Regions from separate parts of the Homo sapiens genome. Here region 2 is linked to region 1. The links come from fine-mapping of genetic effects on gene expression. A gene starts in region 1. The other region holds a variant in brackets. All regions are shown on one strand. Distances are between the middles of the regions.

Region 1 (16,447 bases):
AAAGGATAATAAGGGTATGCTATGAACAACTCTAATTAGGACCAGAAGTAGACTGAGGAAAGTTCATAATAGTGGTAAAGGAGAATAAGAGAGGAAGCTGAAGCCAGAGGAATATAGGGACTGATAGCCCTGAGAATGAAGTTAGTAACTATGAATTTGTATTGATGCACAAAATTCAGGTGGCTTAGAAAATTGTTCCAGAAGTTCACTTTAAGGTTGGTGTTTTGTGATGATGCAGTGTAAATATAAGGATATATGAAAATGAAATGTGCTGGTAAGAGTTTAGATACTCAATGCGGAGTCTGAACCTGGTTGTGAGCAGCGTGGGAGTATGAGGCAGCTAGAAGTCAGGGAGAGGGAGAGAGACCAAGAGAGGACTGGTGGATGGACTGGGGAGGGAGGCTGCGCTTGGAAGTTCAAGGAAATGGAAGTTTGCACAAAAGCCAAAAAAAAAAAAATAGTGAAAATGAAGTCATAAGAATAATACCTTTAGCCATTTATTTTGCACCTACTGTGTTTCAGTCATTATTCTATACATGGGATATAATGGTAAGCAAAACAGGCAGATCTCGACTAGTTCAGGAACTTACATCTTTAGTACTGATAAATAAGTAATTATAATACTCAATAATACATGCTAGGAAGTACTTAAAAAGGGGTATAGGAGAATGGTAAGATTTTGTTTTGTTTTAGAGATAAGGTCTTGCTCTGTCACCCAGGCTGGAATGCAATGTCATGATCATAGCTCACTGTGGCCTCAAACTCCTAAGCTCAAGTGATCCTTCCATCTAAGCCTTGAAGGTAGTTGGGACTACAGATGCGCACCACCATGCCTAGCTGATTTTATTTTTTTAAAAATTTTTGGTAGAGATGATGGGGGGGTCTCACTATGTTGCCCAGGCTGGTCTTAAACTCCTGGCCTCAAGTGATCCTCTTGCCTTGGCCTCCCAAAGTGCTGGGATTACAGTGCAAGCTACTGCGCCTGGCCTAACAACAGCTGGATTTTAATTAAAATCTTTTCCAAGTAGGAATGAGTAACCAATAGGAAAAAACACTCAAATAAGTGGTACTGAATGGTATAATTCTCAGTATACACTAGTATTAATACTTACAAACTTCCCATTCGACTACAGCTATCCCAAAGCTCTCCAATCTCAACATCACAAATCTGTAAGAATCCTCAGCCAAATTATTTCACCAGGGCAAAGCAATTTCTTTATTAAAGAGGCTTTTAAAATTCTCTACACTGACTGATTTCTCAAGAAGATGCGAAAGAATAGTCATTCAGGCCCATCTCAAATAGACAAATATCTCTAGAATTTCCAGTTTCATATGACTAGTGGCATCTAGTTTTTAAAAATCAACATACTGCAGACTGACTCATTGAGACTGTTACCATTCTGAACTGAAACTTTTTAGTAATTAAAAAATTGCTGTTCACTTTGGGAGGCCGAGGTGGGCGGATCACCTGAGGTTGGGGGTTCGAGACCAGCCTGACTAACATGGAGAAACCCCGTCTCTACTAAAAATACAAAGTTAGCCGGGCTTGGTGGTACATGCCTGTAATCCCAGCTACTTGGGAGGCTGAGGCAGGAGAATCGCTTGAACTTGGGAGGCGGAGTTTGCGGTGAGCTAAGATTGTACCATTGCACTCCAGCCCAGGAAACAAGAGTGAAAATCCATCTCAAAAAAAAAAAATTGCTGTTATACATCCTATTACCAATCATCTCAAACATACACTTCCATCTGATATAATTAGGTAAGCTTCATGCCATGGTTATTTCAAAATACAATTTCTAAAGGCAAAATAAAATACAATTGGCCCACCATTTGTGGGTTCTGCACCTGTGGATTCAACCAACTGAGGATAGAAAATATTCAAGAAAGAAAATGTCTGTACTCCACATGTACAGACTTTTTTCCTTGTCATTATTCCCTAAACGATGTAGTATAACAACTATTTACATAGCATTTACAATGTATTAGGTATTATAAGTAATCTACAGATGATTTAAAGTATACAGAAAGTTGGGAGGCTGAGGTGGGTGGATCACCTGAAGTCAGGAGTTTGAGACCAGCCTGGCCAATGTGGTGAAACCCCATCTCTACTAAAAACACAAAAATTAGCCAGGCGTGGTGGTGAGCACCTGTAATCCCAGCTACTCGGGAGGCTGAGGCAGAAGAATCACTTGAATCCAGGAGGTGGAGGTTACAGTGAGGCAAGATCACGCCACTGCACTCCAGCCTGGGCAACCAGAGTGAAACTCGGATGTGCATAGGGTATATGCAAATACTACACCATTTTATATAACAGACTTGAGCATTCATGGATTTTGGTATCCATGAGGAACCCTGGAACAAATCCCCCATGAATACTGAGGAACGACTTTACATATTTATGACTAAACAACGTTTTCGGTTTCTTTACTTGCCTTCCCTTTTTAACTCTTGAGAGTGTATATTTTTAGTAGAAACTGGTGGAAAGATCTGAGAAGCTGAACATTGGACTTAAATTCCTTCTTTGACAAACATATGTAAAGTTTCTTGGGACACTTTTAGTTAACAACTTAGGGAAAAATGGCTTGTGAACTGTATCTTCTCCCCTTTTCCACCCAAGAGTCATAGGATTTTGGAATATTCTTGTTTTCTACAACTCAGAAAAAAATCTCCCCATGGTTTCCTTCTTTTTAATGTTGAAGGACACCTAAATTTTGAATTACGCTGGCAGCTTTAAATGTATGCTGGCCAACCTGGTAAATTTTATTGGGCTGCTAGTGCCTCTCTGTGGCCAGTGACTACAATTACAGCTCAGTTTATTGCCAGTGAGAAGCATTTGAAAGATTGCTTCAGATGTACAAATAGTGGCTTTGGAAGCTGCAGAGGCCAGGCATGGTGGCATTCACCTGTAATCCCAGCTACTCAGGAGGCCGAAGCAGGAGGATCACTTGAGCCCAGGAGTTCTAGACCGGCCTGGACAACATAGTGAGACCTCCATCTCTATTAAGAAAAAAAAAAAAAAGCTGCAAAGAACCTAGGGGAATGAGATTAGAACTGACCCAAAGCTGTGGGGACCTGGGCTACACCGGGGAGGGTAGATAGCTAAGCAGGGACTGGATTTTGATTGAAAGGAGAAAGGGGTGTGCATGCTGGGTAGATATCAAACATGATCACTACACATATTGTAATTGTTTCTGTGTTGCCTCCCACACTAGAATATGAGCTCCATGATGGCAGAGACATCTTGCCAGGCACTCAACAACAAAGGTTGCTGAATGATTGAGCAATAAAGGAATAAATGGGATTCATTCATAGAAATTACACATTAGTTGATAGCTGCTATTCTATTACCCTTATTAGAGGCTTAAGATGGAAAATGCTTTGAGTAAATTTTTTTTTTTTTTTTTTTTTGAGATGGAGTCTTGCTCTGTTGCCCAAGCTGGAGTGCAGTAGTGCGAACTCGGCTCACTGCAACCTCTACCTCCCGGTTCAAACGATTCTCCTGCCTCAGCCTTCCGAGTAGCTGGGATTACAGGCACCCACCACCACGCCTGGCTTATTTTTTGTATTTTTAGTAGAGATGGGGCTTCACCATGTTGGCCAGGCTGGTCTCAAACTTCTGACCTCGTGTCATCCACTTGCCTGGGCCTCCCACAGTGCTGGGATTACAGACATGAGCCACCACACCCGGCTGCTTTGAGTAAATTTTATTTAACAATGCTCCATATGCCCAGGAGTATTTCTCAAACCTCATTTTTAATACACAGTATTTTATAGGCTTAGCTCCATTCATTCCTTTGTTTCAGTTAACACATATTAATTGAGCACTACATTCCAGAAACTGGAGATACAAAAATGTGACAGACACAGTTCTAGCGCATAGCAGACAAAATCCCTGCTTTGCTGGCAAACCCCCAATTTCAGCTCCCTCCACTGTGGCAGCTGCAGGAATCGTGTTTTGTTTTGTTTTTCTTCAGGTTCGTTTATCTCTCCTGTTGTACTCCTGTTTTTCTACACTTTAGCTCCTAATACTCAACTTATTCTTTTTTGAAAGGATGCATATTATAGTATATTAACCCAAATTCCTTGAAATTTCTTGTACTTGTAGAAAAGTGATATAGAAACAGTGCATCTGTAAGTACTAGAATTTCTCCAAGTAGTTATAAAAGTGTTTTTGAATTCTCCTTTTGTCTCTGAGGAAAAATCTAATTAGAATAAGAATGTATTTTCTGTAACAGTTGCTAAAAGGAACCAATGTTCAATGGAGGATTAAAAGTGCCTTGGGGATACAAGATAATTCTACGTGGAGAAATGAAGCTGAGAAAATACTTAAATGACTATGTGAAAGACATGCATAGATAATACTGGCAAAGTTGGAAATAGTTTCTTCGAGCTTTTGAGTTTCTTATTCTTTTACTACTTGTTCAGCCCTACTCTCTGTTTGCCTCCATAACTTAATATAACCAGTGGATTTATAATTATGACGGGCTGTAAAAATATACACACTTCATTAGGCTAAAGTAGGGTTTCTTGACCTTGGCAACATTGACATTTTGGGCTGGGGCACTTGTTGTGGGGCACTGTCTTGTGCATTGTCAAATGTTTAAATGCATCTCTAGCCTCTTCCCACTAAATGCCAGTAGACAAAATATCACCAGATATTACCAAATGTTCCCTGAGGAGCATAATTACCCCTGGTTAAGAACTAGTAGACTAAATCAACCATCTTTAGTTAAGTTCCTGAGCAAGTTTATTTCAACTCCTACCACTCAGTTGAAACCGTTCAAATCAAAATTTCAAATTGCTCTCTTGTAGCTAAACCAGTAGATACTTAAGACACATAAAGACCAGTCCATACTTAACTTCACCTCTCCAAAACATTTCATGATTCCCTTTTTCTTAGAATGTTCTCTTCTCTCCTTGACATTAACTTCCCCAGTTTTCCTCTAATTTCTTTGTGTATCTCTTTGCAGCTCCTGTTCCTCTACCCATCTCTTAAAAGTCATTGTTCTCAGGTGCTCTGTCCTAGGCCCTCTGACCCTCTCACTTTATACACTCTCCCTGGGTGATCTCCTCTACCCCTGTGGAAGCTATTTCTCTCTGTGCATTGATGATGTCTTTGTCCTTTTCTCAAGCCCAGATCTCTCTCCTAAGCTGCTGGTTCATAAAACCAATTGCCTACTAGATATTTATACTTGAGAATACCTCAGGCACTTCAAAATCAAAATGTACAAAACCAAGAAAGTACAATCAAAAAATGTTTTCTTCCTCCTGTGTTTTTTATTCCAGTGAAAGTCATCACCATTTACCAGTTGACTAAACCAAAACTGCAGGATTCATTTTTTATTCCTCCCTGTCTCTAACTTTCTCACTTTTCGTAACCATTGTTCCCCAAGTCTTGTTAACTCTACCTTCCAAGTCAGTGCTTTACAAACTTTACCATGAATAAGAATCACAAGGAGGGATTGTGAAAGAAAAGTTTCTTCTTGGATTCAGTTGCAGAAATTCTGATTTAATGGGGGTGGGGGATGGCAGAATTGTATTTCTAACAAGCTTCTAACTGCTGCTGTTGCCCTGAAGACTGCATTTTATGTCACACTGTCCTAAAAGACTTCTCATTGTTCCTATAGTAAAGCCCAAGCATGACTTTCAAGGTTGTATAGAATCTTATTTACCTCTTTACATTCATCTCTCACCATATATTTTTTCAATGGTAAATGAATGAGTGAAGGATGAATGAACCAGAGATATACAAAGGCCATTGACAATCCTCCATTCCAAATGAAAAATAAGAATTATCTGACTCCTTGACTCTAGCTATTTCATCAAAATTCAACAATTGAGGTCTCTACATGGTTATATGATCATACTGGGATTCATGATATTGGTCTTTTTTTTGTTTTTCCTTGCAGATGGGGTCTTGTTTTATCATCCAGGCTGGAGTACAGTGGCATGAACATAGCTCACTGTAGTTTTGAACTTCTAGGCTCAAGTGATCCTCCCACATAGCTGGAACTATAGGTGCATGCCACTATGCCTACTTATTTTCTAAAATGTATTGCAGGGCCAGGCACAGCGGCTCACTCCTGTAATTCCAGCACTTTGGGAGGCTGAGGCAGGCGGATCACTTGAGCCCAGGAGTTCAAGACCAGTCTGGGCAACACAGTGAAACCCCATCTCTACAAATACAAACAAATTAGCCAGGCATGTTGGTGTGTACCTGTAGTACTAGCTACTCAGGAGGATGAGGGGGGAGGATCACTTGAGCACAGGAGGTCGAGGCTGCAGTGAGCCAAGATTGTGCCACTGCACTCCAGCCTGGGCAACAGAGTGAGACTCTGTCTCAAAACAAAAAATATTGTAGAGACAGGATCTTGCTATGTTGCCCAGGATGGTCTTGAACTCCTGGCTTCAAGCGATCCTCCTGCCTCAGCCTCCCAAAGTGCTAAGATTACAAGTATGAGCTACCATGCCCGGCCCAGGACATTGGTCTTAATTCACAAACGTAGTGCAAGAACAGGGGGAGAAAGGAAGAGTCATTCCAAAAACTAGGTCTCATATACATTATAAGTAGTCCATAAACTCAACTTTATAACCACCACAAAATGGGTGAGGTTGTTCTTTCCCGCCTACAGAATTAAAGCTGCATTTTACCTCTGTGCAACAATTTTTCCCCATTTGATATTGTGCTGCATGTTCATTGTTAACTTGATTTCACCTGTATAATTATTCCTGTTTTTTACTGGGGGAAGAGGAGCTACATGAATTTGCACCCTATCATGCCTCAGTCCTCACCATTCAGGAATATGTTTTGAGTTATGCACTCACTGAAGTGTCCCCATATTTTTGCAGCTCTTCTCTACGGAGGAACTGGAGCTCTAGTGTTTTTTTTTTTTTGTGGCAGTCCGTGTTAAGTTTATACAGACCAATCATAGTTGACTCTAAGACTGACCTAAATTCTTAAGGGCGTAGAATCTATCCCAGAATTGGCCTGAATCTCTTTCAATGCTTTGACTGTTATGGGCTACTTGTTTTCTCACAACATACTTAAGTACGTTTCTTATGGCTGCTGTAACAAATGATCACAAACTTGGTAGCTTAATACAACACACATTTATTCTCTTTTAGTTCTGGAGGTCAGGAATCAAAATTAGTTTCACTAGGCTAAAATCAGCATATCTGCAGGGCTGAACCCCCTCCAGAGGCTCTAGGGGCTTCTTGTCTTTTCCAGCTCTGGTGGCTGTAAGCATTCCTTGGCTTATGGCTACATTGCTCCATAATCTGCCTCTATGGTCACACTGCCTTCTCCTCTTCTGGGTGTGAAGCATCTCTTTCTGCCTCTCTCTTATAAGGATACTTGTGATTGCAGTTAGGGCCCACCCAGATAATCTCCCCATCTCAAGATCCTTAACTTAAATCAAAAAGACCTGTTTCCCAAATAAGGTAACATCTACAGGCTCCGGAATCTAGGAGCTGATATCTTTAGGGGCCGTTATCAGCCTATTACAATTTACATCTATATTTACCCACTCTGTGCTCAAAAGTATGCCAACCTACTTATTGTAACCCATGAAAACTTGCACTACCTTCTTAAATGTCAACGTAAGCTAAATGTAAAAACTTATTTTAACTTCGAAAATTATTTTGGCTGAGTGTGGTGGCTTATACCTGTAATCCCAGCACTTTGGGAAGCTGAGGCTGGAGGATTGCTTGAGCCCAGGAGTTCAAGACCAGCCTGGGCAACACAGCAAGACACGCAAGATATCGTCTCTACAAAAAAAATTAAAAAATTAACCAGGTGTGGTGGCACACACCTGCAGTCCCAGCTACTCGGGAGGCTGAGGTGGGAGGATTGCTGGAGCCCAGGAGGTTGAGGTTGCAGTGAGCTGTGATTGTGGCACTGTACTCCAGCCTGGGCAGCAGAGTGAGATCCTGTCTCACAAAAAAATTATTTTGTTTTACAATAAAAAAATTTTTAATTGCTTTGATTTAGTGATAAATGCAAAGTAATGCATTTAGTTTCTAAGATGACCAAGCTGTTAAATAATCAAATGCACACAATTTGAAAAGTTGTTGAAAGGATTGGCTGTATCAAAAAGAAGAAAGGAGAAGGCTTAAAGGAAGAACACACAGCCTTCTTCATATGTTTATAGGGAATAGGGATTCGATATATAATGTATAAATATAAACAGAAATAATTAATTGCAGGTGAAGAGAGGCAGATTTCAATCCAATATGAGGAAGTGCTCAGAAAGAACAATGGAAGGTGCTCTCTCAAAATGAAGTTCTTTTCTAGTTCTGGAAGTGTCTATAAATGTGCAAAGACCCTAAGGGGAGGAATGTGGAGGAGAGAGTTGGAAAATATATCTTTAGATACAATCATGAGGATATTTTATAAAACATAGAGTCTCTTTAATGGTTGGTTCTAAACAAATCTAAAATATTATCCTTCTCCAATTCACTTTTCAAATGATAGCCAGAGTGGTCAAATCTGATTATGTCAGTCATCTTACGAAAATCCTTCATTTGCTTAAAGACCCTTTCAGTATTGATCCCCAACTTCCTCATGGTCTCTTCTGGAGTTTTTTTTTCCTCCCTAAATTCTAGTCACATTTACAGTTGCTCAACTTTAGATGCTCCTTCCTATCTAAAGCCATTGAACATGCTGTTATCTCTGTTTGCAGAGCTCTCCTGTCCTTCCTGACTAGGTTACTCTTACCCAAAGATAACTTTCTCCAGGGAAAGCTTCTCTAGCATGCTAAATCAGTTGGGTTCTCATATATGCTTGCAAGATACTCTGAACTGTTTCATCAAGATGAAAGCATTTATTGTACAATTGAGTATGTCTGTCTTCCCTGATAAAATGTAAGCTCTGTGAGGACAGAGACATTTTATCTTGTTGATCACAGTGCCTGGCATATGGTGGGCACATTTAAATATTTGTTGAATGAATTAACCGACTCTCTTTTTTTTTTTTTTTTTTTTTGAGACGGAGTCTTCCTCTGTCGCCAGGCTAGAGTGCAGTGGCGCGATCTCGGCTCACTGCCACCTCTGCCTCCCGGGTTCAAGCGCTTCCCCTGCCTCAGTCTCCCGAGTAGCTGGGATTATAGGCTTGTGCCACCATGCCCAGCTAATTTTTTGTATTTTAGTAGAGATGGGGTTTCACCATGTTGGCCAGGATGGTCTCGATCTCCTGACCTTGTGATCCGCCCGCCTCGGCCTCCCAAAGTGCTGGGATTACAGGCATGAGCCACCACGCCCGGCCTCTTTTTTTTTTTTTAACCTGGTTTGAAGTGTGAAAGAAGTTTGATTTTTAAAAAAATGTTTACCTGACACCAGGTTTCCAGTAAATTTTCAGAAATATTAGTATGATTTCTTGGAGGAGTATGGTTTCTTGGAGGCAGGCCGGGCGTGGTGGCTCACACCTATAATCCCAGCACTTTGGGAGGCCGAGGCAGGTGGATCACTTGAGGTCAGAGTTCAAGACCAGCCTGGCCAACATGGTGAAACCCTGTCTCCACTAAAAATACAAAAAGTAGCGGGGCGCGGTGGTGGGCGCCTATGGTCCCAGCTTCTCGGGAGGCTGAGGCAGGAGAATCACTTGAACCAGGAGGCAGAGACTGCAGTGAGCTGAGATCACGCCACTGCACTCCAGTCTGGGCGACAGAGCGATACTCCATCTCAAAACTAACAATACAAACAAACAAAAAAGAATGGGGATGCAGATGAGAAAAAACAAGCAATCATCGAACAAGCCACCTCAAGGTGGAGTACCATGGAACGTCAGAGGCTTCATGAAAGTCAGAAAAACTGAAGAGCACTTGGGGTTAGGAATTCAAAGGTGGGCAGCTCTTATACAGACCTTGCCCTCAACAAACCTATAGTCTAATGAGAGTCGATAAACACTTAGCAAAGTATTAATAATATCCATGGAGTGTGTAAAGCCCTAGTAAAGGAGGTATACTGGTGGTAAGAAATACCTAATTTTGTGAGGTGGGGGAATGGAAGGATGGGGGAAGGATTGGGTGGTCAGGGACGCGGTTTAAGCTGAGACTTGAAAGATGATGGAGTAGTTGACCAGGCGGTCAGAGGAACTTGGAAGCGCTATGATTCGGGATCCCACAGAGAGAGATTCAAGGGCACCTTGGCAGATATGGTTTACAGTGACCTCTGGTGTGACAGATCATTAGCATTGTGAACATGCAAAAACGATGAAGTTCTGCCCTTCATTTCACCAGAGCTGGGCTCGCCTCAAATTCCTGGTTCCTTATTCCCGCTGGCTCCCACCAACTGAAAAGCAGAGGTGGCTCGCAAGCGGCGGGGCTCTGCCCTAGATTGCCAGTAGGCGCTCGACTCACATCCAGCTCCACCCCGGGAGATGCCCCAGAAGCCCCGCCCACGTCCAGGCACGTTCTTCTGGGGCTAGTCGCAGGGGCCGCCCCGGCACCGGCGCTCACGTGACCCGAGGTGTGACGTAGGAGGAAGGAGACGCCATTAGAGGGAGGCAGAGAGGGATCGTTCTTCGCTTTTCCTCCGGTGCCTGACGTGGTGGGCTGGGGCCCTTCATTCTCGGACTTTCCCTCAGCCCTTCCAGGCCTCGCCCGAGGAGGGCGTGGGGACAGCGCCCGGGTCGGCGGGGCCGGGGCGGTGGGGGCTGAGCCGGCCGTGGCTGTGAAGGCGCTGCCGCGGCTGTCGGGAGGGCGGCGCGACACTCGGGCTCGGGCGGCCGGGAAGCGACGGGATGGCTGCGGCCGGCGGCGGCGGCGGCGGGGCGGCGGCGGCGGGCCGAGCCTACTCGTTCAAGGTGGTGCTGCTGGGGGAAGGCTGCGTGGGGAAGACGTCGCTGGTGCTGCGCTACTGCGAGAACAAGTTTAACGACAAGCACATCACCACTCTGCAGGTGCGGACCTCGGGGAGCGGGAGGGGGCGCCTCAGGGCCCCTACCCCTCCGGGGCTGGGGAAACTTTGCCGCCCTGGTCCCCTGGATGTAGGCTGGCAAATCTCAGGCCTGTCATCTCCGCCTTCGGTTTACCTTTCCGAATTCGCCCTGGGGAATCACCAGGTCGGGGCAGCCTGTAGACGCGAGGACAGGCTGTTGGGAGGGAAGTGGAAGGGCCCTGAAAAGTCCCCAGTGTTCCCCGTGGTGGCTGCGCACGTTGTGGTCTCCGTCCGTGGGCTGTTTTTTCCCATTTACTGCAGTTCCTGGGTCCCAGGTGTCAGTGTTGCAGTCTCCAAATGTTAGCTCCTTTTCTTTCTTTCAGAATTAGGAACTTAGCTGCGTATTTGATTTTGCGAATTAGGTGATTTGTAACTTCAGCGCTTACTGATGACTAAGTGTTTATGCAAGTTCCATTTTGTCCTGAGTAACAGGAATGGCAAAAGAGCCATCTCTGGAGGTTTTTTGAAATGACCGCTTGCCTAGGCGTGTTACGCAGTTTCATTGCAGCCTGCGTGGGTCTGACTTGCGGGTCACTCATATTCTGCGAGGTCGATTGACCCACGCTGAAACATCAAGTGAATACTGGCCAACAATTGGTCCCCAGACTAAAAGCCGCTGCTGTTACTCAGTTTCTTTACCTGTAAAATAAAAGGTCGGCTTTCTTCCACAGGTACATTGGAAAGGTGTTAAAATGTTATCATTGATTGAGAGTGAAGCCAGGCCTTTGAGGGAGTTGTACTCACCCCACCTCTCCCAGAGAAATCAGTTTTGATGTTATTAGGAGAAATTTATCCTACTAATTTGACTTACCAATTTGGTCAAAGGCAGTAAAGTCTAGTGGACTTTTGAGCCTGATTGTCCAGGTTCATGTCTCACCTCCATCCATTTAACTAGCTGTGTCATACTGGGTAAGTTACTTAACCTGTCTGTGCCTGTTTCTTCTGTTAAAATGGCCATAATAGTAGTATCTAGCTCATAGGGTTGTCAGGATAAATATACAGAAAAAGCACTGATGACCTGGTCCAGTGTAAGTTGTCTGCCTTTAATTACCGCCCCAACTTGCACAATAGGTCTTAATTAGTAAATGTGTAGTATGTGAGAACATCGACACTACTTAATAGAATGCGTAATCTCCTAATTGTTGTGACATTGGATGTTTGATGCTATTATTAAACTACTGAGTCTAGAATTTACAAGACGCTCTGGCTCTGATTCCATGTTCTATTTTTACTCCTCTGATTTTACTCGTATGTAAAGCATATCTGAAAAAGTGAGTGCCAGGAAACTGCATTTTTAAAAAATCCTTGTACCAGAACACTGACAAAATTTTAATAATGAATTGTTATTGTTCAGTGTCATTAGTGAGAGCCTGGTGTTTTAGATCAAGAAAATTCACTGGACAAATACCTAGGATCATTTGGAAGTTTAGAGATTTACTTAGGTAAAGTAGTAACAATAGCTAACATTTAGTGAGTTCTTACTGTGCTGATTATTTTGCTTGCTTTCTGTCTGCTTGCTTTAATTCTTATAACACCCTATGAAGTGGATAGTTTAGTGGATAGCCCTACAGCTGAGGAAAAACGTTTAGTTGAGTAATTTTGCTGGCAGTAATATTACCACAAGTCAATGGGGCAGGAGTGTCCAAGCTCAAATTTGAACCCCTGTCTGACTTCAGATTTTGAGCAATTAAATCACATTACCTCGGTATATTGATAAATAACCCATCTAGTGTTTTCCTTTATGCAAAGATCTAAGATAAAAGAAAACTATTGTAATTGAGGTCTCCACGTTTTTTTTCAAAAGATAACTTGAGTCTTGCCCTGTCGCCCAGGCTGAAGTGCAGCAATTTCCACTCACTGCAACCTCCACCTCCTGGGTCAAGTGATTCTCCTGCGTCAACCTCTCAAGTAGCTGGGATTACAGGCACACGCCACCACATCTGGCTAATTTTTTTGTATTTTTAGTAGAAACGGGGTTTCACCATGTTGTCCAGACAGGTCTCGAACTCCTGACCTCAGGTGATTTGCCCACCTTGGCCTCCCAAAGTGCTGGGATTACAGGGGTGAGCCACTGCACCTGGCCATACCCTTTCAACTTAAAAATTACACTTCCATTTTAAATTTCTAAAACATTCTTGAAACTGAAAGCAGAGTAAAGGTTTTTAAATATATGAAAAGCCACTGTACTCCACAGAGGGGAGGATGAAGTTATAGTAGATATCCAGTATTAATATCTGAATTATATTATAGAATTTAGGATTTTGTTGTACACCAATGTATGTAAACAGCAATGTGTCTAATCTCTTTCAGAGATACCAGTTAACCTCATCTTTCTTAACAATTTTTCAGAGGAATTTGATTTATGTGACTTGTAAGACACAACTTTGTATTCTTTTAATTTCCAAATGGAGAGGAAATCATGTCAGAAGATATGAGAGGAAGAGTTCACCTTTTTTCTCGTCAACAGAGTACCTGTCTATGTAAACTACTTTGTATTTTATAAAGTACATTCTCATACATTTCAAAGAATTGCAGGATTGACAGGAATTTAAGACAGTTATGTATGGATCACTATTTTGGTCTTCTAATGTTTAGTCAAGTGATTGTCCCCCTTTTTTTTTTTAACATCTTGGAGGTGAAATGAACTGGTATTATGGAAAGTGGAAAGCTCACTTTGTCCTAAGGTGTCCCATTTCATTTTTAAATTTTTTTTTTTTTCTTTTTGAGATGGAGTCTCACTCTATCACCCAGGCTGGAGTGGAGGGGTGCGATCTCGGCTCATTGCAACCTCTGCCTCCTGGATTCAAGTGGTTCTCCTGCCTCAGCCTCCCGAGTAGCTGGGACTACAGGCATGTGCCACCATGCCTGGCTAATTTTTGTATGTTTAGTAGCGATGGGATTTTGCCGTGTTGGCCAGGCTGGTCTCGAACTCCTGACCTCAGGTGATCCACCTGCCTCGGCCTCCCAAAGTGCTGGGATTACAGGTGTGAGCCACCACTTCCGGTCCTATTTTATTTTTAGTAGTTTTCAGTCCTAATTCTCCCCACTGAGTCTTGGTGTCTCATATGACATTCCTTCTGATAGTTGAAGATAGCTATCTTGTCTTCTCTTGGGTAAACAACTCTGGCTCCCTTAACTGGATCTCCAGTGACAGTGACATCGTTTTAAATCCTTTCACTTTTTTTTTTTTTGGAGGCAGAGTCTTGCTCTAGTGGTGATATCATAGCTGCCTGCAGCCTCCAACTCCTGGGTTCAAGTAATCCTTCCACCTCAGCCTCCAAGTAGCTGGGACCACAGGCGTGCGCCACCATGCTCGGCTAATTTTTTTTTTTTGGTAGAGTTGAGGTTTTGCTATGTTGCCCAGGCTGTTGTAGAACTCTGAGCTCAAGCAATCCTTCTGCTTTGGCCTCTTGAAATGCTGAAATTACAGGTATGAGCCACTGTGCCTGGCCCTTTCACTATTTTGAATCTCTTCTAGGCACTATGTAATCATTGTCCTTTCCTTAAAGTGTGATTCCTTGAGCTGTAGAAATAATTCCAGGTGTGGTGGTTTGAACTGAACAGAGAAGTGCAGGCTGTCACCTCTCCTGTTGAGAATCCTTTTCCAACACTGAAGTAGAAGAGATTCTCTGAGCTTTTAGGGAAGCTCTCAGAATTTCTCTTTGATAAATATTGAATTTGCTGTCAACTGAAACATCTTAGTCTTAATTGCTTCAAAAAAAGGCATTATTTGTATCTCTCAGATTCTCTTTTCTTTGGTATTGTAGTTAAGCTTTTTCTTTTGTTTCTAATATACTTGACCCATTAAGGTTGGCTTTGGTAGATTTGCTCCAATAGTTAAGCCTGTTAATGTCCTTTTTAATTTGGATTCTGTAATTCACAAAACACTGACTGGGCTCCTTTGGGCCAGGTACTGGGTTGGGTCCTGGACATGGCAAAGAATAAGGTGTGGAATCTACTGTCTGGATTAGCTACTTTTTAACTTTGTCATCTGAAAGTTAGGTAAGAATGCCTTTAATGTTCTCAACAGGTCATTATTAAAGACTATGAAAGAAAGCAGAGAGAGAGGGCCAAGTGCAAAGCTCTGCAGCAAGTTTTACTGTAGTCCAGTGATACATGACCAGAAGTGCAATTTTCTGTAGACATATAGAATCTTAGGGGCTTTTTTGGGCCATGCATGGGCCACAGGCCATCCCCTCCTCCTTCCCTTGAGTAAGAAACAGTTGTTAATGGAGTGCTATACATATTAATGATAATGGAAGACTGACTGCTATGGGCTACTACCTAGTGGACACAAATCCCTTAATAAAATGTAAACATTTACTCCAGCATTACAGTTCTCCTTTTTGCCCAAGCTACATCTGTCTTGCCCACAAGGTTATCATGAGATGCTTTGTCAAATTCTTGCAGAAGACAAGATAGGCTGTGTTTCTGCAGTACTCAAATCTATTAGGAGGCCATATAATGTGGTGAAAAGAGAAAGGACTTTGAAGTTACACTGGGGTTTGAATTCTTACTCCCACTTCATAGCCATCGTGATCCTGACAGGATATTCTAATGCCTGTAAGCAAGCTCCTTTTCTTTAAAATGGGAGTACCTTACTCATAGGACTTTATGTGGATTATTACATAGACAGCCGTCATATGTAAAGCTACTAGCACAGAGCCTGGCACATGTTTGTTTAATAAATGTTTGCTGTTTGATGTTAAATGAATAAATGATGCGGGATTTATGTTTTTCTTTCATGGCAATTCAGTCAAAAAGGGTAATGGGATTATTTTCACATGAATTATTTTGAGAACTCATGCTGTCTCTGAGGGGTCATTATATTTAAAATTGCTTATAGGTTAAATATTTTTAAAACAAAGCAAATCCATTCTAGTGTTTTCACTGAGATCTACATTTCCGGAATTCACTTTCTTTTTTTTGTTTTTTAATTGTGACATTTGCCATACTTTGGTGTTTTAGTGTGGCTCTCTTTTTCCAGAGCTGCTCCAAGGTTACTGATAGTTACGGAGTAATCCTGTACGTAAGCTCTCTTAACTTATATAGAGTCCCCAAGCTCTCGTGTGATTTCCTCGCTGATTTGAGGCTTTGATAAACTTGGGAAAAATAAGAAAGACAATTGGAGTGAGGGAGTTACTACTGTTTCTCTGGAATTTACGAAGGCAATACTGTTGAATCTATGCAGTTAAATTCAAGAAACGTTTATTTTATACTTGGTATATGTCAAACATTGTATTAGCTGGGGAATATAACGATGAGCAAGGTACTTTAACTATCAGTTACTTTTCTTGACTTTATTCTTAAAGGATTGTGCCATTTTGGTTTTAACCACTTCCTCAATTTGGTGTGCCTTCTTTATATCTGTGCTCCTGGGTTATGTACCCCTTTTTTTTTCCCTTATTGAAGGTGCTTATTGAAGATTAATCAAGATCAACAGTCCCCTTTCTTTTTAGAGTCCCAACTATAGAATTCTGCTTGCCTCCTGAAGTCTAGGATAGGTGTCTGG
Region 2 (16,447 bases), 31 kb after region 1:
AGGAATATTCCTAATGGGTATAAAGGAACTCTGCAACTCACTTTTGGACTTCTGGAATTTCTCTTTGGTTCCCTTTTTCTTTAGATTATTATTTCTGTGATATCACAAGTATTGAACAATAAAAGTATACTAAACACTGTGCTGTGTACTCACAGACATTATCTCATGTAATCCTCATAATCCTATGAGGGTTTTATAGAGGAAGGTGAGTCCTGGAGATAATAACTTGCCCAGTGTCAGGTAGCTTTCAGAGATGGGATTTGAAATGAAGTCGTTCTGACTCTTAGGTTACTAATCCTTAAGATGTATAGCCTCATGCTGTTTTCTCGCTTTCTTTCTACATACCTGATAATATTAAAAGCAATATGGGAGAAGCCAGGGTAGGATCATTTCAGTGGAAGACAAGGGTAGTATCTGGGGAAATGAAAGAATGGAATGGTCAGTTTGGGCAAATTCTGCTTTTAGCCTTAAGAATTTTTTTTTTCTTGAGACGGAGTCTCGCTCTGTCACCCAGGCTGGAATGCAGTGGTGTGATCTCAGCTCACTGCAACCTCCGCCTCCTGGGTTCAAGCGATTCTCCTCCCTCAGCCTCCCGAGCAGCTGGGACTACAGGCACGCACCACCACGCCCAGCTAATTTTTGTATTTTTAGTAGAGACAGGGTTTCACCATATTGGCCAGGCTGTTCTCAAACTCCTGACCTCATGACCCACCCGCCTCAGCCTCCCAAAGGGCTAGGATTACAGGCGTGAGCCACTGCACCCGGCCAAGAATTTTTTTTAACTTGAGTTTACATTTCTTATCTCTTGCCACCATTACATTGGTAGCTTTATAGTACCAGATCAGGGGCAAGTCTTGGGGGAAAAAAGCGAGATGATTTCCCCTGCGTTTTGGTCTAGATGCTAGATGTTAGGCTAGGCAGGAATATTTCAGACTGGAACACTGAAGTAGTAGGCTACTTGGAGATTTGGAACCAAAGCTACAGCTAATCAGTACTGAGTTTTGTGTAACTTTGTGTGGTATATGGACTTACTAGGAGTGGAAGTGGCCACAGTAGATGAATGACTGAAGATTTAATATTTTGGGATTCTGATCATCTTTCTGAAGATAGAAATTACTAACACATACATAAAGTCAAGGAAACCCCAAGAGCTTGTTACTTGACCAAGGTCACAAAGTAACATTTAAAAAATCATCTAAGTTAAACAAGCTCATGAATAGTTTAAAGTGTGTTTGTTTTTTTTTAATGTTCAATGAAGTACCTTTTATGTTGCCCCTCTCTAAAAGTTGAAGGCATAACATTAAATTGAACCTCAGGGAAGATACTTTCACTGGAGCATCAGAGAGAGTGGTTGCCAGATAGTGAATTGGTTTCTTTAAAAATGTTTATATAGTGTATATTTTTAATGTTCATATTATAAGACGTTTTAGGAATATTGGATCTGGTAGCCTATTGCCTCAGGTAGGGTCAAATACCCCATTTAATATTATATAATGTTTATTAATTATTAGTGTGAAGTATAGAAAGCTCTCACTTTCTTCTGTTGACAAGTGTGACATGGAATTTTACTTGGAATTCAGAGTTGGGAGAATTCTGAGAACTTAGGGACTGATTTGAGTAATAATAAAACTCCAGTCTCCCGTTTAAAAAAAAAAAAAAGAATTCTGAGAGCTTATTTACTACTTTTCCCAAACTTATTAGGATAACTTAAAGGATTAAAAAAAAAGTATTTTGGGCCTCGTTACAGATACACTAAATCAAAATCTCTATGGATGGGACTAAGAATTAATTCCTTCTTTTCACCCCATCTTTCTTCCTTCTACAAGTATTTTTGAGTGGCTTCTTTGTACCAGGCACTGTGTGCTGTTAATTCTGATTTAGTGTACATACACGCTGGTGTTGGAGAACAACTTATTTTTTCTGACACAGTGCAATAAACGAATTTTTCTTCACATTTAGCTGAAATCATACTCCCTGTATCCTTCACTTAACTGATTTTTAAAGTGAGTTTTTCATTATATGTACAGAAAAGTGTACAAATCTTCAATAACATAATTTTCACAAAATGAAAATTGCACGGTGTAAGCAGTACCTAAGGACCCTGAGTTGTGTTGCTTTTTCATCCCAACACTCACAGTTGTTTTCCCCTCACCATTCCCCACCCCCGTCACTATCCTTTTTACTGCATGAATTAGTTTTGTTTTGAATTTTATATAAATGGAATCATATAATATTAACTCTTTTTGGGTCTGGCTTTTTTGACTTTACATTATGTGCCTACGATTCCTTTATGTTGTATATAGTTGTTCATTTTATTCTGATTGCTGTCTAATACTTTAATCTATGAATACTCCACAGTTTATCTGTTTTGCTATTGATGGACATTTGCATTGTTTTTCCCACTTCTTGATTTTTATTCTCTGTTGTAGTAGTTCAGTGTTTATTCTCTCTTCTGTTTTATTAGTAACTTTGAAATAATACTACTACTTCTCAGGGTTATGATGAAGATTATATAATGATTTGAAAAATACTTGGCATAGAGGTAAACATTTGACAAGAATTCATTCTTTTCTCTTTACATAAGATAACCTTTCAAGCATTTGAAGACTACTTAAACGGCTCACTTTAAGTCTTAAATTCTCTAGATCAGCTGTTTTTTTATGTGGCCTACCTTCCAGACATTCTGATCATCCTGATCATTTTCTCTCCTAGGTTTATTTTATTGTGTCAGTATGTCTCCCACACTTGGAAATAAACCATAGAATCCAAATGTTGTTGAGCTAGTATGTTCTTATAGACCCTGTCTCTCTCCTCACACTGGCCTTCTATCAGGATTGCCTGAGATTGCTTAAATTTTTTAGCAGACATGTCAACTAGTCTCTTTTACATAGGTTATAGTTATCTAAAATCTCAAGTCCTTTTTTATAAGTATTGCTATTCAGCCAGATGTTTCCCAGCTTGTTCTCATGTAACTATTTAAAGCTAAGTAGAAATTTCAGTTTGTCATGTTTTTGAATCTTTATGTTTGATATACAGTCTACTAGCATTTTCATGTGTAAATTGAATACTTAACCTCCTAGATCCTTATCTAAGTCCCTGATATCCATGTGCTAACCAGTAATAGAGAACCACATGTTTCAATAGCAGAGACTTTTTCCTCTAGGTTGTCATTAATCCATTGATAGGCACCCTTGGCTGTGGTTGATAGTATTCTGCATCTAGTCTATCCTTAATATTTGTATGTTTCTTGAACAAATATTTATTATTAATCGTAGTCACCATTTACTGAGTGCCAGGCACTGTTTTAAGTACACATTTTTTACTTCATTTAAGCCTCCTGACAATGCTGAGGGGAAGACCATTTCATTTTACAGATGAAAAAATGTGCTTAGAGACCTTGAAACTTCCCAAAGTCACATAGTTTGTTAGAAGTAGACCTGGGATTTTAACTCAGATCTGCCTGCCACTTCAAGCCCATATCCTTAATAAACACTTCATTGCTTACTATGTGCCAGGCTTTGGGAATAGTGTAGTGAATAAGTAAACAAAATAGATACGGTTCTTGTCCTCCCAGAGTCTCTTGTGTGGAAAAAGAGAGGAAAACAAGCTACTATTATATGTTATAATAAATGCTATGGAAGGGAAATGCAGAATGGAGTGCTATGAGAGCACAAAAGCAAACAAACTAGATTTGGGGTGCAAGGGGGAGATAAGGGAACATTTCCTAGACCAAGTGTTGGATAAACTAAGTTAGCTAGATGAAGCCAGTAGGATGATGGTAGAGTGCGTTACCTGCAAGGCGTGGTGGCTCACCCCTGTAATCCCAGCACTTTGGGAGGCTGAAGCAGGCGGATCATTTGAGGTCAGGAGTAAGTTTGTATTACCTGTCATGGACTTTAATTGTCTTACAACAATATTGACTTTCCATTTGATCATTCACTGTGATGAATGTCATTAATATTAATAACTGTTCCTTATTGAGCATATAGTATATGCTAGGCCTTTTACATATATCTTATTTTCACATCAACCCTGCAAGGTTTGTTAGCGACACATGCGTACAGTGAGACTAACAGAGGTTAACTAATTTGTCCAAAATATTACAGTTATGGCCAGGCGTGGTGACTCTGGCCTTTAATCCGAGCATTTAGGGAGACCAAGGTGGGCAGACTGCTTGAGTCCAGGAGTTTGAGACCAGCCTAGCAACATGGCAAAACCCCATCTCTACAAAAAAATACAAAAATTAGCCAGATGCGGTGGTGTGTGCCTGTAGTCCCACTCGGGGCTGAGGCAGGAGAATCGCTTGAGCCCGGGAGGTGGAGGCTGCAGAGAGCCGTGTTCACGCCACTGCATTCCAACCTGAGTGACAGAGCAAGACCCTGTCTCAAAAAAAGGTAAAACAAAAAAAAAATTACAGTTATGGAGTAAGCAAGGACTTAAAAACAAGTTTTATCACATTTAAAAGCTTTCTGAAAGCTTCTTTCCACTGTGCCCCACAACCATTCAGTCTAAGCATAATATGATTCTAGTTCTATATCATTAGGCCATTTGCCCTTAGCAGTGGACATGCCCCTTCTATGTTCTTAATTCAAATATGTATTTTTAAGGAAGATCTGCTTAACTTAGAGGGTAGCTTTTTCCCTCCCTTTCCAATAGTGTCAGCCTATTTGTTTATGTTTTTAATTCTTTATAGTACTATACTTTTAAGTAGGTGCTTGCTTTGGTTATTGTCCTTGTTTTCAGGTGTTTTAAGCCTATCAGAAAGTTCCGTATGTAGCTGCACAGTAGTATTGAAGCAGATATGAGTCTCAAAGCCTTACTCCTTAGCTGTCTTGCTTTTGAAAAAATATAGAAACTAAAAGGGTTTTTGAGCTTTGGAAAGAGGTCAGTCACTAGCCAGTCAGGTTTCTGCAATGTATTCTGTGCTGTCAATCCATTGTGAACACTGATTATTCAAAGAAATAATAGTTATTTAGATTTAAAATATTTTAAGTTTAAAATAATAGGTTATTAAGATAGCTATTTATTAATGGCCTGATTTATTAAAATTAGTCATTTAAAATATTATCAAATAATAAAGCAGTGTCTGAATTATTTCTCCTAAATGTTCATTTGAGGCAGTAAGGTGATTGCCTGCTTTTCCTCTCTTCACTCTTTTTATAGGTATTGATGATATTGATGGAATTTGGAACATGAGCCATTAAATACCTAGAAAAAAATTCCATAGGGTTTTAGGTAATTGAAGCAAAATTAATATTGCTACTTTTAGTAGGAGACTATCTTATTTTGCCTTTGTGAGGCAGAATCTTTTTCCTGTTTGTTGGAGCCACTGGCCACCAGGTGGTGCTTTTTGCATTCTTTACAGAATAACACGACGGTTTTTCCTCTGGTTACTGTCAGACATTGTCATATTTAGCTAATTAAAATTTCCAATGACAAATATAATGTAGGAAGTTAGAACTAATATGAAACTTCTTGCTGTGGTAGATAGCTGTTCAAAGAAGGAAGAGTTTGTTACTGAATTTGTTGGTATCCACTGAGCTTTAGTGTTGTCTGCTTCCCTCTCTCTGATTCTTAGGCTATGGTGGCAGATAGTTTCTTGCAGTTGCCAGCAACTAGGTTCTCAGATTATTCGAGGTCCTCAGTATATAGAACCTTTGGACTTGTCCACCTCAGTGCTAAACATTTTATCTTTTATTGGGTGCTTATTTCAATGCCTTATCTGAAATTTATCTGAAATTGTCTCCTAGAATCTATATGGTTCCAAGAAAAAAAGTAACCTTATTTATAAGATTTCTCTTTTCTCCCTAAAAGCCATAGTAGAAGAATAAAAATGTTTGTTTGAAGTGTCCTTCCATAGGGTATTTTTCCTTATCGTTATCTACTGTTTTTATTACCTTTAGCACTCTGGGTGTCCAGCCAACTCATCTTAAGTTCAAGGAATCAGTATTTTGCAGTTTCTTCATTTTTGTTCTGATGGCTTTTTTTAAAAGTATAATCCCAGCTTGGTTCTGTTGTTTAAGGAGAGCTAAACTTATAATTTAAATCTGCATGATATACATATATTAAGTTTTAATAACTCACTAAAATTGTTTTTTAAACAAAGAATACAGTTTTTCCGGCCGGGCGCGGTGGCTCAAGCCTGTAATCCTAGCACTTTGGGAGGCCGAGGCAGGCGGATCACGAGGTCAGGAGTTCGAGACCATCCTGGCTAACACAGTGAAACCCCATCTCTACTAAAAATACAAAAAATTAGCCAGGCGTGGTGGCAGGCACCTGTAGTCCCAGCTACTCAGGAGGCTGAGGCAGGAGAATGGCGTGAACCCGGGAGGCGGAGCTTGCAGTGAGCCGAGATGGCGCCACTGCACTCCAGCCTGGGTGACAGAGCGAGACTCCGTCAAAAAAAAAAAAAAAGAGAATACAGTTTTTCCCCTTATGATTGTGGAGTACTTAAAAATCTGTACACTTTAATTTTTACTTTAACTGGTTTATATCATCCAGGAAACCAAAATACTTGTAGGATCCAAGAGGCTAGATTAATATATTTTAGTAAACACTAAGATAGCCATACTTATTGACCGGCTCTAAGTTAATGGGAACTGTAGAAAATTTTGCTCTTACTTTTGATCATTTACACTTGCCTAAGAATCATAGGTTTATCTCTAGGTCTCTGGTATCCCCCAAAATCAAAAAAGAGTGCCTGTCTCTTTGGAAAAGTTGTTTTCTTTGTCAGAGGCTGCAGATTCAGGAAAGGTATGAATTGAGTCATTTGAAGGAGGATGAGGCATGATCAACCCTCAGATCACAAGGCTTAACTTTATAATTTCAAGACATTAGAAGTCTGGTGGGGATTTGCATTATTTTTGCTGGTAATTAAAATGGCAATTTTATATTTAGAATTGGCTTAATTTTGTTATGAAAATAAATCAGTATAAAGATAAATATTTACTTTTTTCAAAATAGGTAATAAAATAGACTTGGAAAAGGAGAGACATGTTTCCATTCAAGAAGCAGAGTCGTAAGTACTGTGACCCTCCCATTCCCCATCACTCCCTAGTAGAAATCTTCCTCTTTATACGTTTTGCTTTACCATTTAGGTATTACTCAAATCTCTTAGCATGGATTGAGGTGTTGGATTCAGTGAAGCATGTTTACATGGTAATTTCTGGGCTTGTGGCAATAAAGCCCTTACTTCCCTTTTTGACTTCAGTGAAAAATACGAGTGATATAAAACAAAACTATCATGATCAAATAGGCAGTAAGCCAGAAAAACTTTTGAAGTATTTGAGTCCCAAATTAATCTATAAAAATTTCGAGGCTTGTTATATTTGTGTTATTTAAAATTTGATTTAATGTATAGAGAATTTAAATAGCTATATAAACTTAATTTCACTAAACTTGAGTAAATTAATATGTCACTAAAACTGTTACTATAAAAAAGCAGTTAAGACAAAATCATGAATAATATTTTACATCAATCACCGATGTTACTTTTTTTTAAGGTATGCAGAATCTGTGGGAGCAAAACATTATCATACTTCAGCCAAACAGAACAAAGGAATTGAGGAACTCTTTCTTGACCTTTGTAAAAGTAGGTATATTCAGATTTAGTTTGTTTAGAAATGGTTTTTGGTTTTTATTTTTTAAAAAATAGTATGTATTTTACACCAGTGTTACTTTTCAAAGAATTGGTTCTTTTTAAACTATTGACTATTGGTAGTATTTCTGAAGTGCTGTAACTATTTTTTTTAATGCTTAAATACCTACTTTAACCCTGTTTCAAGCAGTAATTAATGGTTATGAAATC[A/G]TAAGTATGGTGTGGGCTAAATATATATTATAATATATGCATAAGTATTAAAAGTGGAAGGGGAATTTACATATTAAAACAGATTTAAGACCTGTAACAACCTCTTGCAATGAATGGACCTTATTTGGACACTGATTTGTCAAACTAGTGAAAAAGAGTGTTTGTGAAACAAGATATTTGATGATATTAAGATACTATTAATTTTTTAGGTGTGATTATGGTATTGTGGTTATGCTTTATAAAAGGAGTTCTTATCTTTTAAAGACACATTAAAATAATTTAGGAATAAAGTTATGGGTCTGAGATTTGACTCAAAATAATGGTAGGGATGCTTAGGGTTATTCATGAAATTGGGTGATGGATTTTCATTATGCTGTATTTTCTACTTTATGTTTGAAATTTTCCATATTAAAAAGTTTATAGTTTTAAAGAAAAAGGAAAATAAATTTATATATATTCTGAAAATCATTTCTTATATTACCAATAAAATGCATATCTGAGTTTATGGACTTTAGACTCTTTTGAGAATTTGATGAAATCATGGTTTTTCTCTCTAGAAAAGAATATTGATATGTGTGTGTGTGTGTACACACACACACACATTTTGGAATAAATTAGTTTTATAAAACCCTCAAGTCATTCATAATTCTTCTAAAATATTGATTATGTAAGTGATGTCCCCTGATCAGCAGCATCAATATCACTTGAAAATATGTCAGAAATGCAAATTCTTGGGCTCTCCAAGCCTGCCGAATCAGAATTTCTAGGGATGGTGCCCAGAATCTGTGTTTTAACAAACGCTTCATATGATTCCAATGCACACTAAAATATAAGAGCCAATGCTGTACATAACAACTTGGGGATCTTATTAAATGCATATTTTGATTTAATAGGTGTGGGATAGATTGAGGTCCTCATTTCTACAAGCACCCAAGTGGTGGTGATGCTAGTCATCAGGATATCCTCCTTCCTTACCTCCCTCCCTCCCTCCCTTCCTTCCTTCTGATAATGCTTTTAAATAACAATGCACTAAGTCAGTGGCTTACAAATGTTATAAATATCACATCTTCAAAACAATTTTTGCATGCTCCACATGTTTATTTAGAAATTATATAACATGTACAAGTACTAATATGTACATTTTAAAACATACCTAAAAAATAGAAATTTTGGAAAGTTAAAAATAAGTAGATATAGAATTTATAATGTTTTCTTATTTCCTCTTGTTGGATTGTCCCACATACCTCAAATTGTAAACCATTAATCAAGAGCAGTCTCTAATTTAAGAGCCCTTTTGTATTTTAAGGACACCCTCTTTTCTTCCTTCATCTTCTCAAATACGTGTTTTGTAAATACTTTCTCTCAGTCTGTGTTGTGTATTCCCATTTTTCTTACCTGTGTCTCTTAAAGTGCAGTTTTAAGTTTCAGTGAGGTCCAGTTTATCTATTTTTCTTTTATGATTCATGTTTTATGTCTTACATGAGAACTCTTTGTGTAAGCCAAAGTCACAAAAATTTTCTCCTATGAAGATTTTTCTCCTGTGTTTTCTTCTGGAAATTTTGTTTCATGTCTTACATTTAAGTGTATAATTCATTTTTCGTTGTTTTTTGCATAAGATGTTAAGGTGTGGGTTAAGGTTGATTTTTTTTTTTTACAATAGATGTCCAGTTCTATTAATACTACTGTTTTTTGAAAATATTCTTTCTTCATTGAATAACCTTGGCAACCATGTCAAAAATCAAGAGACCATATCTACGGGGTCTATTTCTGGACTGTGTTTTTTTGGTTCCACTGATCTATTTCTCCTATCATTGTCTCACTGTTTTGATTAGTGTAGCTTTATACTAGTTCTTGCAATCAGGTGGTGTGAGTCTTTCTGCTGTGTTCTTCGAAGTTCCCTCATCTTAAACTCCATTATTCTTCAAATATCGCTGTGGTCAGGGACAGTGGCTCACACCTATAAGCCCAGTGCTTTATGAGGCCAAGGCCATAGGATCACTTGAGCCCAGGAGTTTGAGACCAGCCTGGGCAACATAGTGAGACCCCCATCTCTAGCAAAAAAAAAAAACTCAGCCAGGCATGGTGTTGCATACCTGTAATTCCAGCTACTCAGGGACTGAGGCAGGAGGATCAACTGAGCCCAGGAGTTAGGGGCTGCAGTGAGTAAGTGATGATCACACCACTGCACATCCAGCCTGGGTATCAAAGCGAGACCCTGTCTCTCAAAACTAAAATAAAAAGAATCATTTACTTAAAAGTATTACATTTCTAGTTGAAGAATAAATCCTGCCCCCTAAATATTACTTGGAATAATTTGAACTTCTTTGACATATTTCTAAGTGTGTTTGGAAAATCTTAAGGATTATACTTGTACGCAGGCAATTGTTCAGAGCAAAAAAATTTTTTTCTTTATTGATATCACTGTGGCCATTATACCACTGGATAAATAAGCTTACTACTTGATACTAGTTTTTGACACTAGTTTTTTAAAACATGCAGGTGAAGCTGTTTTAGTGAGCTGACCCAATGTTCATTATATTTAGTTTCTTTGTTGGTCGAAAGTCAGAAATAGCTATCATAGTGTTATACTGAAATTTTAGAAAGAGAAAACACAAATATTGTGGTCCTAATAATGTTTGCTTTCTCTCTGTCTTAGGGATGATAGAAACAGCACAAGTGGATGAGAGAGCAAAAGGCAATGGCTCTAGTCAGCCGGGAACTGCAAGGCGAGGTGTACAGATTATTGATGATGAACCTCAAGCCCAGACCAGTGGTGGAGGGTGCTGTTCTTCTGGATAACTGTTCACGCCTAAGAAATTAAAAGACAGAACAAAACTGTGGATCATTGCCCTCAACATGAAGACTGCCATATTCCAAGTCACATTATTTTACCAATGGAATTATAGAATTAACAGTATTTTAAATTACGTTTATAACACTGCAGAGACCTTAAGTGCTAAACTTAGTGGAGTTTGTGACCAGAGAATTGGCATTTTCTACAAATGTTTTTTTTTGTTTTTTTTTTGTTTTTTTTTGTTTTTTTTTGAGACGGAGTCTCGCTCTGTCACCCAGGCTGGAGTGCACTGGCTTGATCTCGGCTCACTGCAAGCTCCACCTCCCAGGTTCACGCCATTCTCCTGCCTCAGCCTCCCGAGTAGCTGGGACTATAGGCGCCCACCACGACGCCCGGCTAATTTTTTGTATTTTTAGTAGAGACGGGGTTTCACCAGGTTAGCCAGGATGGTCTCGATCTCCTGACCTTGTGATCCGCCCGCCTCGGCCTCCCAAAGTGCTGGGATTACAGGCGTGAGCCACCGTGCCCGGCCTACAAATGTTAACAAAGCAATTACCAATGGCCTTTTTACATATTTTTTCTTTAATGAGGAATAATATGCATGTAGAAAAGACCTACTTAAAGTCTTCATTTATATTCTTTCAAATCAAATCTTTATTTAATAACTTATATATGTTGTTGGAATGGTTACATTTTTGCAGCCCTTTGTATTTTGTGGTAGTTGAAATTGTATCACTTCTAAACAGCAAACTGTTTTTGTTTTTAATTAGCAGATATCTGAAGTACTATTTTTGCAGGGTTTGCACAGGCCCGTAACTGTCTACTACTTTGATATAATCTGTATACATCCTGTATGCTGAGCTGGTAAAATACATTGTAAATTACATATTAAATATTTTATCTGCTTTTACAAGCGCAAGGTGCAAAAATATATACAATAGTCTCATTGATGACTGTAAAGTGAATTAACATTTGGTGATTATGCCTAGCTTTTTTGACTAATATAAAGATCATAGCTCCCCTTCACTTCTGTCTTAACTTGAACATGGCGTGTTTAAATTTTCATACATACTTTACTTGAATTATTGCTGTTGTCACATATTTTTGCCTCTGTGAGTTCATCTGATGATTGAGCAGTAGCATTTGCCTTTTGGGTTTTTTGTTTGTTATTATAGAAGAGATGACTTCTGCTGATTTTGCTTTAGAATGGTTACCTTAGAAGAATTTGGGTGGCTCATGTTGAATTTCACTTCTGCAATAGCTTTCATTTTCTCATAGGCTTTATAAGAGATGGGTTCAGTGGTATGAGCAGAGGAAGAGATCCCAGATAGTAGCCAGTTAACCAAGACTCATTCATATAGCACGTAGTTTATGTTCCTGAGGCAGCACTTTTAGATCCTTTGTGAGCAAGTTCTATTTGTTCATTGCTTGCCAGAGATGAACACAGAATGTTCTGTTTCATTTTACAAGAACTATCCTGAGTTTCTGTGGATGGAAACATTACATGTAATGCAGATATAGTGAACACTGGAAAGATTTATTAAAGAATTATATTTGTGTATACTTTATAAATTAGTCCCTCATTAGATTTTTTTTTCTTAAGCATAAGACTGAACTTAAATGTGTTAATTTTAGTAGAATCAGGCACTGCTCGCAGAAGGAACACAGATTGTAGAGATTAACATAAATTGTTCTTGTTCTAATATATATATTTTTTCATTTCTGTCGTGCTTGGAAAACTAGTAAATATTATGTCTAAGATAAAATGGAATGGCCCCTGGATTTACTTCTTATAAGAAGCAGTAGTATGTAATAAAGCTATTAGCATGAGCAATTAAGAGGCTATAAAGAGATTATAGTTACAAAAGAAATACTGCCATATTTTTAAGTTAATAACTTAAACCTTCTCAAATGGGTTAAAAGTTGAATGAATTGACACCCTGATGTTATGATGTTGGAATTTTAACTTAAACTGGGAGGCATTCTGTGAGCCTTCACTTTACCTTCTTTAATTATTGTCCTTGCTAAACTCAACACAGACTTTTCTGTTATGTGTTTTTGAGGAAGTTGGGGTGGGAAGAGTCAGGGAGATAAGCTAAAATTGTCTTCTTTTATGGGGTAATTGTACTCTGTAGTCTCTTGGTTTCCTGTGAAGTTAGTATTTATGTGGGGGTGGGGGAAGGTAGCAAGAATCATGGGTATCACGGTACTTTGTTTTTGACCTCCTGGCTCTTTCAGACAGAGTGAAGAAAGCTTTTCCATTCTTACTGTTGTAGAAGTAGATAGGAAATAAGCTTTTCTCATTACAGTGAAATATGTTTTAAAAACTAGAGTAGCTGGGCACAGAGGCATGCATTTGTAGGGCCAGCTACTTGGGAGAGTGAGGCAGGAGGATCACTTGAGGCCAGGATTTCAAATCCAGCCTAGGTAACACTGAGACCTCCATCTCGTAAAAGGCACAAAAACTAGTTAGAGATGAAATTGAGCTTTATTTTAAAAAAACGTTCTAAAGCCTGATAATTGGAGAGCTATACTTCAGCTTTTCATCCTACTTTAATGAAACAGCTAGATAGGAACCTCTGCTCCAGAATTGCCAGATAATTATTGGTGGGTCATAACTATTCTTCATATTTTTTTTTTCTTTTTTCTCCTTTGGTTTCTGTGTTATCTTTCTTAACCTCACGTATTTCTTTATCCTTTTTAGTGGGGGCCTGTAATTGAGGCTAATTCAATAGCAACAATAGACAACATGATATGGCTGCTGTCACTTTGAAACCCAAAAGGTCTTTGGGTAGGAATAGAGTAATGAAAGAGGACCAGTCAACTTCAGTATATATACAAAGGAAAGACAAAGAGATGATAAACCAAGGCTGAGGAAATTTTTCTGATGCTTTCTTCATTTCTCTAATATACCTTTTGCATTCTTTTTCTGATAATTGTGCTATTAGGCAGAAGACACAAGTTACCACGTTGTGTATTAAAAGCAGTAGGTAGGTTGTGCCAGTATTTTTTCAGCCAGTAAGCATATACAGTTAACTTATATAATTAAAAATTGGTTTAAGATAGTGATTAAAAATACCTGAATATTATGTTAAAAGTATACAATCATTGTTTCTGTAATGATGATGGGTATTCTGCTTCTTGTTTTTCATTGTAATTACAGGGGAAGATTGTTTTTGAAAATGTATATTGCCATGCTTTTGGGGTAAGCAGTAATGTGAAAAGAAAAAAGCATTATGTTATTGTATGAAATATAAGTGTTCAGATTTGTTTTGTCTGGGGTGTTGCCTAAGAATACCCTAAAGCTATGGCTGTTACTGCATTGAAATCTTTTTTTTTTTTAATAGTAGCCATATGTTATTAGTGGAGTACTTTATATTTGACATTAAAGTGAAGAAGAAGAGTAGTACTTCACTTTTAGGTTTTTAGTAGTGAAAGATAAAATTGGAAAAATAGGGAAAGAGCATAGGGAGGAATAGAATGGAAGTCAAGTAAATAAAAAACTACAACCTGACAGTTTTTTAAATCACTTTGAAAAGTACATTACTTTTATCAAAGAGTTTCTAATTAAGGCAAACTATGCATTATGCCAAATATTAAGAACATTTTAAAAATGGATTGTGATACTGTTTATTTCTTTAATTATATAATTTGCAATTTTCTGTATTATAAGTGCTACCAGGATTCTAGATAGTTGATCTTACATATTCAGATAGTATAGTTTACTCTTATAATTACCCGTTACGTTATCTCTAAAAGTAGTTTGATCTGTGCCTTTAACTTTTAGAATTCATCTTTTGACTTGTTTGCCACTGTAGAGTTTTCAGTTTTCTCTGTAGATTCAGTGTGACAAAGAGGGAATACATAATTTGTGACCATTTAAGATGCTGATATTTTCTGGAAAAGGATATAGATAGTAGTAGTGACCCGCAGGAGCCTCACAATAATGTCTAAAGATATAAACTGAGTAGATCCCTAAGTACTCTTCTCTAAATTATAAAATGCATTACCTAGGCTTTAATAGTTAAAAGCTGGAATTTATTGAACCGCATCTACTTGATTTCATAATATGCATTGATTTTAGTATGTTGCTGTTCTGTTATCTGTAATCAACTATAACAGAGTAATATATTTGGTGTTCTGGACCAAAATTCGTGCTACACATATGTCTGATGGCCTTTACCTTTTCAAGAAAACAGTTGCAATTTTGAGCAAAATTTTCCTAGTTGTAATATTTTAATAGTGTTATGTATTGGAAAAAATTTAGAAATACTCCTAAGAGTTTTCAATTTCAAGCAGAAATGCTTCTCTTCTAAATAAATACCACTTAATTGATAGACCTTTAGCAGTTCTTGTGCTATCTAGGATTTATACATTTTTGCTTTTCTGGAAAACTGCTTTGGCGCATTAACCTTTCTACTGCAACATTTTCTCTTCAGTAGATATATGAGTAAACATGATGAGTTAATGTTACACAGCATACCCAGTTAGGTCTCTTATTCTTAAAGCATCTTTCTTTAGAAGTCTGCACATATTTTCAAATGCATCATATTAAAGGCACAAGTCAAGAGGAGGTGGAGTTGCCTACTTCAGTGGCCTTTATTCCCACTATACCAGTTCTCAGTCTTGATTTTGATACTTTCTGGCAACTGTATCATCTCTTCACTATCACGTATTTTAAGAAAAAGCTAAGGTGATTTCTTTACATTTGAACATGTGTAGATCAATGAGAGAATGGTGAGGGATAGCAAGGATAAAGTATAATGTTGAAAAGTAGAAAGAAGTGGTATCTGCTAAACTCTAGCTTTAGTAGCAAGCTATTTTAAGGAAATCATTGTATGTGGTACTTCCTAGAAATATGAAAGTTCCTCATTTTGTATTTAATTATGTAAGAAAATGTTCTAGGAAAAGAATAAAAAACATATATTGTCAAAGTGCCCTTTGGTAGTGCTCCCAAATGGTAGTAACTATTGGTCTCTAGTATATACTCCTCAAATATCTTTTTGCTATGTATTAATATATCTATATGTTTACATATAGAAATACATAGTGTTGTGGGTTTTAAATTTTCACATAAATTGTGTCTTACCCATGTGTTTTGCCATTTGCCTTTTCTCTTGCCAACGTGTCTAGGAGCTCTTTGGTAAATACAGACTTTTTCATTTTATTTCCTCCCACATTTCTATGGATGTGTCTTGCCTTTTTCTTTTTTTTTTCTTTCTTTTTTTCTTTTTTAAAATAGCCTCTGACTCCATGAAACCTGAAAAGGAATCTGGTCTGTTAGGTGGATTTCATTAGTATCCAAATTTATTTATTTTTTTATTTCATTTTTTTGAGACAGTCTCGCTGTGTCACCCAGGCTGGAGTGTGGTGGCTCAGTGATAGTTCACTGCATCCTTGAACTCATGGACTCAAGCAATCCTCTTGCCTCAGCCTTCTGAGTAGCTGGGACTACATGTGTAAGCCACCATGCCTGGCTAATTTTTGTATTTTTCATTTTTAGTAGAGATGGGAAGTCTTGCTGTGTTGCCCAGGCTGGTCTTGAACTCCTGGCCTCAACCATTCCTCCCACTTCAGCCTCCCAAAGTACTGAGATTACAGATGTGAGCCACTAGGCCCAGTCAGTATCATAGAATTTAAATGCAAGCCAATGCTTAGACAGAATCAGGGTCTGCTTTAAGCATGTGAATCAGGAAACTAGAAGGCCTCTTGTAATGTATTTGAAGTTCATTACTTTTGGCTGACGGTTGACTGCTTAGTGTATAAAATCTAGGAGTTAACTTTAGCAGATTCTTTTATCAGAATACGTTTTTTATTGGAGGGAAGAAGGAAAAAGAGGAAAGGTA

Evidence for each region.
Region 2: its variant is fine-mapped to the expression of RAB21 in T cells (TOPMed, PIP above 0.99).

The regions. Positions count from the first base shown.
Region 1 is chr12:71,744,392-71,760,838 of GRCh38, forward strand. RAB21 (RAB21, member RAS oncogene family) reads left to right here and starts at 10,472. Exons shown (of 7, transcript NM_014999.4): 1 at 10,472-10,897. The coding sequence starts at 10,739. RefSeq lists silencers at 3,474-3,683, 10,514-10,793 and enhancers at 10,244-10,533, 11,174-11,363.
Region 2 is chr12:71,775,068-71,791,514 of GRCh38, forward strand. It overlaps RAB21 (RAB21, member RAS oncogene family), which reads left to right. Exons shown (of 7, transcript NM_014999.4): 5 at 6,964-7,018; 6 at 7,503-7,591; 7 at 10,464-16,447. The coding sequence ends at 10,606. Among named protein-coding and RNA genes, the nearest start is that of RAB21, 28 kb to the left of the region's middle. The variant A/G (reference allele first, on the strand shown) is at 7,808.